Homo sapiens: one gene and its partners. The protein of the gene in region 1 purifies or fractionates together with the protein of each later gene. This does not show direct contact. Each region holds a gene or a part of one and is shown in the gene's direction. Other genes may lie near its edges. The genes, in order: ARHGAP20, YME1L1 and MTMR14.

Evidence for each region.
Region 2: the proteins of ARHGAP20 (region 1) and YME1L1 purify together in Homo sapiens (affinity purification with mass spectrometry, with the first as the bait; one large-scale study listed by BioGRID). This does not show direct contact.
Region 3: the proteins of ARHGAP20 (region 1) and MTMR14 purify together in Homo sapiens (affinity purification with mass spectrometry; one large-scale study listed by BioGRID and IntAct). This does not show direct contact.

Annotation. Positions count from the first base shown.
Region 1 is NC_000011.10:110,604,296-110,607,949, reverse strand, and holds part of ARHGAP20 (rho GTPase-activating protein 20), read left to right. Parts: intron 1-1,200; coding exon 1,201-1,389; intron 1,390-3,654. UniProt on the Homo sapiens protein: GTPase activator for the Rho-type GTPases by converting them to an inactive GDP-bound state.
Region 2 is NC_000010.11:27,109,601-27,113,141, reverse strand, and holds the end of YME1L1 (ATP-dependent zinc metalloprotease YME1L1), read left to right. Parts: intron 1-1,021; coding exon 1,022-1,165; 3' UTR 1,166-3,031; downstream 3,032-3,541. UniProt on the Homo sapiens protein: ATP-dependent metalloprotease that catalyzes the degradation of folded and unfolded proteins with a suitable degron sequence in the mitochondrial intermembrane region.
Region 3 is NC_000003.12:9,655,972-9,659,625, forward strand, and holds part of MTMR14 (phosphatidylinositol-3,5-bisphosphate 3-phosphatase MTMR14), read left to right. Parts: intron 1-3,654. UniProt on the Homo sapiens protein: Lipid phosphatase that specifically dephosphorylates the D-3 position of phosphatidylinositol 3-phosphate and phosphatidylinositol 3,5-bisphosphate, generating phosphatidylinositol and phosphatidylinositol 5-phosphate.

The DNA of each region.
Region 1 (3,654 bases):
AGTTATTAAAAATCAAACACTTGAAATAATTGTTTTAATAAAATATATTAATGAAAACTATGTAGATGGTAACTTTTAGGCTTATGACAGCCCCAAGCTTCCTGACTAGCTCTTACTGAAAAACAATGAGACATAGGACATTATTGTCCCATGATTTAGCAGCAATGCTTAATCATTATTTTAATGTGTTCTGCAAACCTCAATTGTAGATTAGCTGCCGGCTGTTTTGATAAATTGATTTTGTTTTATTATTGTCATAGAAGCCTTTTTCTGTCTTAATCTCTGGAAGCTGCTGTAGTACTTGATATTAATGAAACATTGACATTGTATGCCTAGACCAGCTGAAAAGGAAGAGTAAGAGTTCACTGAGTTACATTTAGTGATAAGTCAGGAATAGAAGGGAACTTGCTCTCTGTACTTAAAAAAAATCTACATCAGTGGTATTTGAGGATTACACTAAAAGGACGTAATTACTTAGAATACTAAAGAGTTAAAATCATGTTGTAGTCAGATGTCCAGGGTTTAGTTTTTATAGTCTGTATATTCGTTTTTGCATCTGTTTCTGTGTTTCTGATCCCCTGCAGTCTTCCTTCTGATTATTGCCTCTGAACATCAATCTCAGAGGGCAGCAGTGAGAGGGAAGCATAAATCAAACCAGTTGAGTAACTAACTGTGTAACTAATAAAAATTAATGAAATGTTTTTAGGCAAACATCTTGTGTTAAATAATATTAATAATAGTGATACTTGACATATATAGATCCTTATACTTCTGTGGTAGGTAGAAAAAATATTTTAAATCATAGATTTGAGACTGAGCAAGGACATGTATTTGCTGAAAATTTATATATCTAGTTAATGTCAAAGGAGACAATAGAATACCTTTAGTTATCCTTAGATGCACGTGTTGGAAAAGTCAGCATTATGGAACTCGCAAACTGATCTGTGCATTCATTCCAAACAAGATAATCTTTAAAGATTTTTTTCTTCTTTTTCTCCCTCCTCTCCTTAAAACTACTTTGGTAGGACCACCTGCATACTGGTCTCCAACTGTAAGAGTGTAAATGATCATTCTGTCAAACAAAGGGATTCTTTATGCCAAAAGTCCCAGGAGTAAATTGCAGTACATTCCTATTTTGCAGTACACATGCTAACAGTACCAGTCAGCCTGAAGTCTACATTTAGATTTGTCTCTGTGTAGGGCATGAATATCCATATGGAATTAAAATGAGCCATCTTCGAGACTCTGCACTCCTGACACCGGGATCAAAGGACTCTACCACCCCTTTCAACCTCCAGGAGCCCTTCCTTATGGAACAGCTCCCCCGAGAGATGCAGTGCCAGTTCATCCTGAAGCCCAGCCGCCTGGCTGCAGCCCAGCAACTGAGTGGTGAGTTGCTTCTAGCAAAAGTTTTCGTTCTTGAACATAAATTTAGTACAAAGGCAAAGACTCAAACCTCCCGCCAGATGAGGTATTTTTTCTTGGAATTTGCTAAGTATTTTGAAAAGGAAAGATGGACTTTTAGAAGAAGATGGTTTTATAAATCAGCAATAGGCATGATTGACTAGGAATCAGCAGCTAGTAGCAATACAGTCTGTTCCTTCTTTCTTCACCATTCTTTCCCCTTTAACCTTATTCCTACTGCAGAGTCAAAGGCACTAAGCAGTGCTGCAGGTGCTTCAATGCCTTCTTTGTACTGTAATACACTCCAACTGTGTGTTCTCCCTAAATGGTTGCATTATAAAAAGGAGGCTGTCAATGATGGGTGTCAGAAGATTGTGATGCCCTACCTGGATTCTAGTTCTGATAAGTATGTGAAGACTAAGATGATTTCTACAGAAGTCTCTCCTTAGTCTACTAATCTAATATGAATTCCCTGTGAACATAGCAGTCTCTTACCCACCCCACAATAAAGACTCTGGAATGATAAAAGTGATCTTCAATATAAGAGAACTGTAATTTGCCCTAACCCAAGTTTGAGCTTTAAGCTCTGTCTGAAAGGAAGATTGTATAAGCAACAGAAGAAAATTGATATCAAAAAGTATGAGTGAGATAGTAGAAAATTGATTGTGAATTTCTATAGCTACCTTTGTCAATGTGAACCAACTGGGAGACCCATGGATTTGCGTTTTGCAAAGAACCAAATTAGGACCCCAGGTGTAATAAGTTTAAAGGGATGGCGTAGACCTTGAGAGATCACTGAGGCTACCTTCCTGCCACTTGACAGATTATTGGCATCATCTGAGTGCCAGGGGAAAGTCTGAAATTCTTCATCTGTGTGTGATTCAACTGACATAGCATTAATGAAAAATTAGCTCATACTGTTTTTATCTTCATTGCAGAACAACTGTACTTTAAGAAACATTTGTATGTAGCTATCTAAACTTAGAGAAAACGAATTAAATCAGCATTCATTGTAAAGAGTTTTTTTTGCCTTAAGTGTTAATACACTCCAAGATTGTTTTAAACAGAACCTTCTCTAATGCATTTAAAGTTAATTTCTAATTTATATTTCATACTAAAACATATAGTTTCTGAAACAACTGCATCAAGAAATTGTAACAGCATTGTGAAACTTATTTTCCTGTTCGCCCCTTTGATTCAAGATTTTGACATTTTATTGGACAAAAAGAGTTGTAACCACCATCTGTTTTCTTCAGCCAGCCTTTGTTCATTCTATTTTTCATCTCTGGAAGCCCAGATTCCTTCTGCTTCTTTCAAACCTACTAAACTCTACCACTTTCTCCATCTGTTAGTCCCCGTGTCCATCTTTACTTTCCTCCTTATGCAACTTGAATTCCATGGTTATCGTGATCATCCCTGTCTAGCAGAAAACTTCTGTTTCTTTGACCTTCTTTTCTACATTCCTATACATCTCCTAAAATCTCATCTCTAGATTAACTCTGTGCACTGTTGGAAGAAATCATATAGCATCAAGACTACTTGGTATCATTAATGACCAACCTTAATGGGCACTTCATACTGGGTGAGAGTAGTCTTAACTTTGTTTCTGTGCAGCATTCTTCAACTACTTGAGTCAACTGTCTTATATAAATTTCCACCCACATGCACAGCCAGCCTGTCACTTTCTGTTGATGACCTAGCCTCAAACTTTATACTTTACCAAAGTCATTGGTAAATCAGTAGATCAGTCATCAGGGACTCCCTCATCTTACCAACATCAGATACACAAATTTACCTTGAATTTGTTAACAGACATCTCTCTATGATAGTAAATTGAGGTTTTGGACTCTAAAATTTTTCGTTCCCCTTGGGTAATTTTGAAAGGGGAACACTGAGATATCATGGTCTTTCCATCCACTAAAATGTGAGCTCCATGAAGGCAGGGATTTTTATAAAGGGTATCTTTATAACTAGGCTGAGGAGAATAATAATCTTCTACTCTTCTACCTTTGCACCTGTGTTTTTCAAAACTATTTTTCTGGGTCCCTTGTCAATTTTATTTTATAATAATCAGAAATCAGGAATCCTAAGGGTTTTAACCAGTTTTGCTAATGACTTGCTCAACTAAATTGTAGGCATCCTCTGCTTAGTTTCTCTCTGTTGGAAGTGAGGCTAGATGATTCCAGCTGTAAATGATTCATGGTAAGTGGGATTAGGGATGGAATAACTATAGACCAGTGATGCCAAGGG
Region 2 (3,541 bases), on another chromosome or scaffold:
CTCAAGTGATCCTCCCACCTCAGCCTCCTGAGTAGCTGGGACTATAAGCGCATGCTGCCATGCCTAGCTAATTTTGTTATTTTTTGTAGAGAGCATTTCACTATGTTACCCAGGCTGGTGTCGAACTCCTGGGCTCAAACGATCCACCTGCCTTGGCCTCCCAAAGTGCTGGGATTACAGGTGTGAGCCACCGCACCCAGCCAGGCAGGTTTTAAGGGTAAGACTGACCAGCCTGGGCAACATGGCAAAACCTCATCTCTACAAAACATAGAAAAATTAGCTGGGCATGGTGGTTCATGCCTGTAGTCCCAGCTACTTGGGCTGAGGTGGGAGGATCACCTGAGCCCAGGGAGGTTGAGGCCGTAGTGAGTTGTGATTGCCTGACTTCACTCCAGCCTAAGCAACAGTGAGACTGAAAAAAAAATAGAGAGAGAGAGAGTGACAGAGCTGAGTGCCAAAGTCTTTAGTGAGTAAGGACTATGTTTGTCAGATGGCACAATGAAGACGGTTGGATAGCTCCATAGTCAAATGGCCTGGACTTCAACAGAATAGGAAGAGTGCATTATATAAGAGGGTAGGTTAGTAATGGTCTGAAAGAGGTAATGGGAACAATGAGCTCAGCTGTTTACTGTGAAGTAACTAGGGTAAACATGAACAAATAGCACTTGAGAGGGCTTAGGGAATGCATTCTCCACAGGAGGGACCATGGGTTTGATTATTTCAAGGAAGTAGAGGGAATGCTTTAGAGTAGTTAAGGATACAGAAAGTTTGTATGATGGAAAGGTTTAGAGAGTGTTATAGAAGAGGTGGTCTCTGCCTTCTCAGGTGTTTATTCTCTTTTCCTTACTATGTTATAATGCACAAATTATCTCTACTGTAGAATCAAGATTCTACATGATTTTATAAATATAAACAGATTTCATATTTTTTAGGGTACATAAAGTTTTTCTTTCTCTTCCCATTGACTGGTTTTCGCATCCCTGCATTTGCTGCTGCTTACGTATCTCCTTTTCTGTTTCAGGACTCATATGAACGAGCAAAACATATCTTGAAAACTCATGCAAAGGAGCATAAGAATCTCGCAGAAGCTTTATTGACCTATGAGACTTTGGATGCCAAAGAGATTCAAATTGTTCTTGAGGGGAAAAAGTTGGAAGTGAGATGATAACTCTCTTGATATGGATGCTTGCTGGTTTTATTGCAAGAATACAAGTAGCATTGCAGTAGTCTACTTTTACAACGCTTTCCCCTCATTCTTGATGTGGTGTAATTGAAGGGTGTGAAATGCTTTGTCAATCATTTGTCACATTTATCCAGTTTGGGTTATTCTCATTATGACACCTATTGCAAATTAGCATCCCATGGCAAATATATTTTGAAAAAATAAAGAACTATCAGGATTGAAAACAGCTCTTTTGAGGAATGTCAATTAGTTATTAAGTTGAAAGTAATTAATGATTTTATGTTTGGTTACTCTACTAGATTTGATAAAAATTGTGCCTTTAGCCTTCTATATACATCAGTGGAAACTTAAGATGCAGTAATTATGTTCCAGATTGACCATGAATAAAATATTTTTTAATCTAAATGTAGAGAAGTTGGGATTAAAAGCAGTCTCGGAAACACAGAGCCAGGAATATAGCCTTTTGGCATGGTGCCATGGCTCACATCTGTAATCCCAGCACTTTTGGAGGCTGAGGCGGGTGGATTGCTTGAGGCCAGGAGTTCGAGACCAGCCTGGCCAACGTGGTGAAACGCTGTCTCTACTAAAATACAAAAAAATAGGGCTGGGCGCGGTTGCTCACGCCTGTAATCCCAGCACTTTTCAGAGGCCAAGGCGGGCAAATCACCTGAGGTCAAGAGTTTGAGACCAGCCTGGCCAACATGGTGAAACCCCATCTCTACTAAACATGCAAAAATTACCTGGGCATGGTGGCAGGTGCTTATAATCCCAGCTACTCTGGGGGCCAAGGCAGGAGAATTGCTTGAGCCTGGGAGATGGAGGTTGCAGTGAGCTGAGATCATGCCACTGCACTCCAGCCTGGGCAACAGAGCAAGACTCTGCCTCAAAAAAAAATTAAAATAAATTTAAATACAAAAAAAAATAGCCAGGTGTGGGGTGCATGCCTGGAATCCCAGCTACTTGAGAGGCTGAGGCACGAGAATTGCTTGAACCCAGGAGGTGGAGGTTGCAGTGAGCCAAGATCACAGGAGCCACTGCACTCCAGCCTGGGTGACAGAGTGAGACTCTGTCTCAAAAAAAAATTAAATAAATTATTATAACCTTTCAGAAATGCTGTGTGCATTTTCATGTTCTTTTTTTTAGCATTACTGTCACTCTCCCTAATGAAATGTACTTCAGAGAAGCAGTATTTTGTTAAATAAATACATAACCTCATTCTGAATAATGTCCCTCATTTTGACTATAACTGTGCTTGGTTTCAAAAGCAAAATTAAACAAAAATCTCAGTCCCCTCCGAAGTGAACTTTGTGTTACCCTGCGTCAGAAATGCCAAGTTGTGTTTACTTTTCATTCAGATTTTGTGAATATGAACATGCTGTTATAGGATCTACAGATGAATATTTAACTCAATAGAAAAATTATTTTAGAACACATTGTATTGGTATTACAACCAGATTATATTCTTGACGTTGACTTCATTAAAATTATCTACAATTTCCTAATAATTTAAGCTGTATATGGTCTTCATTGAAAAAAGATAGATATTGTTACAGGAAGCTTGTTACATTATATTCTTGACCTTTTGGTTGATAATCTTAAATCTTAATGTAATTTCAAACTGGCAGAAATGTTGCCAGCATAATACATGGATGTCTCATATACCCTGCATCCAGATTTACCAGTTGTTATCATTCTGCCCGTTTTTTATTGCCCCAAACCTGTTCTGTCTCCCTCTCTGTATGTACATACATACACGTATAAAATATTGATAAAGTCTTATCTGTCTTAAATTTTTTTACATATTTGTTGAGGTATAATTTACATATGATAAAATTCATTTTAAATGTAGAGTTGAAAGATGTTGTGTGTGTAATCATCACCACAATTAGATTTTAGAACATTTCCATCACCCAAAACATTGTCATGCAAGTGTTTGGATTAATTTTTTAAGAAACTTATGAACTATTTTCAAAGTGACTATAATTTTATGTTCTAACTAGCAATGTAGGAGGGTTATAGTTTCTCCACATCTTTTGCAGTGCTTATAGTCTGCCTTTATAATTATGGCCATTCTAGTGGACCACTCATATCCAAATTAATCTCATCCAAGTTAGATCATTTCTCTAGTGACATAAGATGCTGAGCATCTTCCGGTGCTTATTGGCCATTTGTATATCTTCTTTGGAGAAGTGTCTATTCAGATCTTTTACTTCTTTTAATTGGGTTGTCTTGTTCTTACAAGTTAAAAAAGATATATTCTGAATGCAAGTCCTTTATCAGATCTTGATTTTTTTTTTTTTTTTTTTTTAAGACGAGTCTGGCTCTGTTTCCCAGGCTGGAGTGCAGTGGCGCCATCTC
Region 3 (3,654 bases), on another chromosome or scaffold:
AGATCATGAGGTCAGGAGATTGAGACCATCCTGGCCAACATGGTGAAACCCCGTATCTACTAAATATACAAAAATTAGCTGGGTGTGGTGGCGCACGCCTGTAATCCCAGCTACTCGGGAGGCTGAGGCAGGAGAATCACTTGAACCCAGGAGGCGGAGACTGCACTGAGCCAAGATCGAACCACTGCATTCCAGCCTGGCGACAGGGTGAGACTCCATCTCAAAAAAATAAAAAAAAAAGAGTGCCCATTTCACAAGGTTGTAGTGGGGTTCTCCAAGAAAAGAGTGTTAAGGGCTCTTGTAAATAGATCACAGAAACAGTATTACATCCTCAGTTATATAACCTAAGAACTTGGGATCGCCAAGCCTAAAGAATTGGGGTTTGTTATGGCCCTGTTATTTATGGTTCTTAGCTCTTCCTTAATTCCTCCTTCCAGAATTAGGTAAGCTTAGTTTCTTTTTTTTTTTAAGACAGAATCTTGCTCTGTTGCCCAGGCTGGAGTGCAGTGGTGCCATCTTGGCTCACTGTAACCTCTGCCTCCCAGGCTCTAGCGATCCTTGTGCATCAGCCTCCCAAGTAGCTGGAATTACAGGTGTGTGGCACCACACCTGGCTAGTTCTTGAATTTTAGTAGAGATGGGTTTTGCCATGATGGCCAGGCTAGTCTCAACTCCTGGGCTCAAACAATCCGCCTGCCATGGCCTCCCAAAGTGCTGGATTACAGGTGTGAGCCACCGCGCCCAGCTGGGTAAACTTAGTTTCCGTAAATCTTTAAGCTAAAGTTTCTGAACAAGAGGGTTTTGTTTTGTTTTGTTTTCTTTGTTTTTGCCTTGCCATTCTCTTCGTTCCCCTTCTTCCTACCCTCTTTGGTGCTGGCTGGCTGGTGGTTTTACCTCTGTGCCCTGATGATGACATTCTGATATTAAGCTCAGCTGTAATCAAGGTGGGTTTTTTTGTTTTTGTTTTTGTTTTTAATTAAGACGGGGTCTGGAATGCAGTGGCACAATCATGGCTTGCTGCGGCCTTGATCCCCTGGGCTCAAGTGATTCTCCCACCTCAGCCTCCCAAGTAGCTGGGAATATGGGCACATACCACCACTCCCAGCTGATTTTTTTTAATTTTTAGTAGAGACCAGGTCTCGCTGCATTGCCCAGGTGGGTCTCCTGAGCTCAACAGATTTCCTCACCTCGGCCTTTCAAAGTGTTGGGATTAGAGGTGAGAGCCACCGCACCCAACAGAGTGGTTCTTTTCTATGTTGATTTTATGAGTGAATCAACTGGGGATCTTTCTACAATGCAGAGATTCAGAAGACCTGAGGTGGGCCTGCGATTTGGCATATTCTAACAAGCTCTCAGGTAATACCAAATGTTACCCTTCAGTAACATAATAGTACATTGAGAAACGTAGTGGTGGTTGCCTTGTAAAAGCTTTTCCTGGAAGGAAACAAGTTTAGTGTTGATCCCTTAAAGAGACTGAAACTAGTATTTGTTGAGTACCTCTGTTTGGCAGGTGTTGAGGTTTTACTTGCTAGCTTAAGCCCTACAACTATTCAGTGAAGAAGACAGTATCACCACTCTTTTTTTTTTTCAATTTGATATGGAGTCTTGCTGTGTCGCTGAGGCTGGAGTGCAGTGGCGCAAGTGATCTTGGCTCACTGCAACCTCTGCCGCTCAGGTTCAAGTGATTCTCCTGCCTCAGCCTCCCTAGTAGCTGGGATTACAGGCGCGTGCCACCATGCCCGGCCAATTTTTGTATTTTTAGTAAAGACGGGGTTTCAACATCTTGGCCAGGCTGGTCTTGAACTCCTGACCTCGTGATCCACTGGTCTCGGCCTCCCAAAGTGCTGGGATTACAGGTATGAGCCACCGCGCCTGGCCCTCACCACTCTTTTATAGATGAAGTTGAAGCCCAGAGAAGTAATTTGCCTTTGCCGAAGATCACAGAGGTAGTAAGCAGAGTGGGGTTAAAAGCTGTATTTCCTGACTCTGTACCTGTCTGCCTTATCTTTCACCACCACGGCTCTCCCACCTTGTCTAGCAGAACCTCACAGTTAGGCCAAGGCCACTGTGGAACATGATTAACCTTAGAGGAGCTTGTTGGAGTTTGTTTTTACTTTTCACTCCTTGCAAGGCCTTAAAGTGTTACTGAAGTGATGTTGAGTGGGTGATGCCTGCTTGTTGAAAGGGGGGACTTCGGGTATGTTTGGGTGGGAAGAAATAGCATTTTTTGCTTTTTTACTGTCTGGCTTGGCTGTTACTATGATGCTGAATTAAACTGAATAGACTGAATAAAAAATAGACTGAATTAAACAGGGTAGAATTGGATTTAAGCAATGTTTTGGTCCTGTTAAGGAACCTCTCCAATTTGGTTCATCATCTGGGAATAGAAGCCTGGACAGGGATCTCTGAATAGCTAAGACATGTTTGTCAACAGTGTTCGTTCAGCTGCTGCTGTGTAGTAGACCTCAGGGATCAAGTTGGAAGCCAGATAGATGAAGTCCTTACCAGTAGGTCTAGTGGGAAACAGAGTCCAATAAAGAAGCAATAATTGTTAATAAAAGCTGGAATTAGGGGAAGTACAGGTGAGGCCCTGCCGGATAGTGGTTAAAACCATGGGCCCAGTGGCTACCCACAGGGTTTAGAATCTCAGCTACCCTGTTTACCTGTTCTGTGACTTTGGGCTAGAGATTTCATCTCATTAAACTACCTCATCTGTAAAATTGGGTAAGTGAGGACTGAGTGAGATAATGTGGGTGTAAGCTCTACTTTGTGCCTCTTATCTATTAAATAGTAGCAGCAGTAACATTTATCTCAGGAAGTTGTGGGGTACATTATAGGAACAAGCCACCCAGTTTGGTAAGTGTGGTGCCTGTCTGGGAAAGCTTCCTATTGGAAATATGTGATAACAGCATTTTCTTCTGTATTTGAAAATAGTTTGGCTGGGCATGGTGGCTCACGCCTATAATCCTAGTTACTTGGGAGGCCGAGATGGGCGTTTCGCTTGAACCCAGGAGTTTGAGACTGAATTAAACTGAATAGACTGAATAAAAAACAGACTGAATTAAACAGTCTGGGCAACATGGTGACACCTTGTCACTACAAAAAATACAAAGCATTAGCCAAGCATCGTGGCATGTGCCTGTAGTCCCAGCTACCTGGGAGTCTGAGGTGGGAGGATCACCTGAGCCCAGGAGGTCAGCTGCAGTGAACCATGGCGCCACTGCACTGCAGCCTGGGCAACAGAGGAAGACCTTGTTGGGAAAAAAACAACAAAATCTCACTACCTGGTAACATCTTGCCAGAAATTTCAGTGCATACATTACAAATGTAAATACAGAAGCCTACATTCATCCCTTCGAATGTGAGTATTATGTGCCAGACACAGCTCAGTGCTTAGCACTGCAATAAAAGAATCCTAAGGACAAGAGATAATAAAAACAGGAAAAAGTGAGAGAACAGAAACTGAATTGGTTCTTTTTTTTTTTTTTTTTAAGACGGAGTCTCATTCTGTTGCCCAGGCTGGAGTGCAGTGGCGTGATCTCTGCTCACCGCAACCTCCGCCTCCTGGGTTCAAGCAATTCTCCTGCCTCAGCCTCCCGAGTAGCTGGGATTAGAGGCGCGTGCTGCCACGCCTGTCTAATTTTTGTAGTTTTAG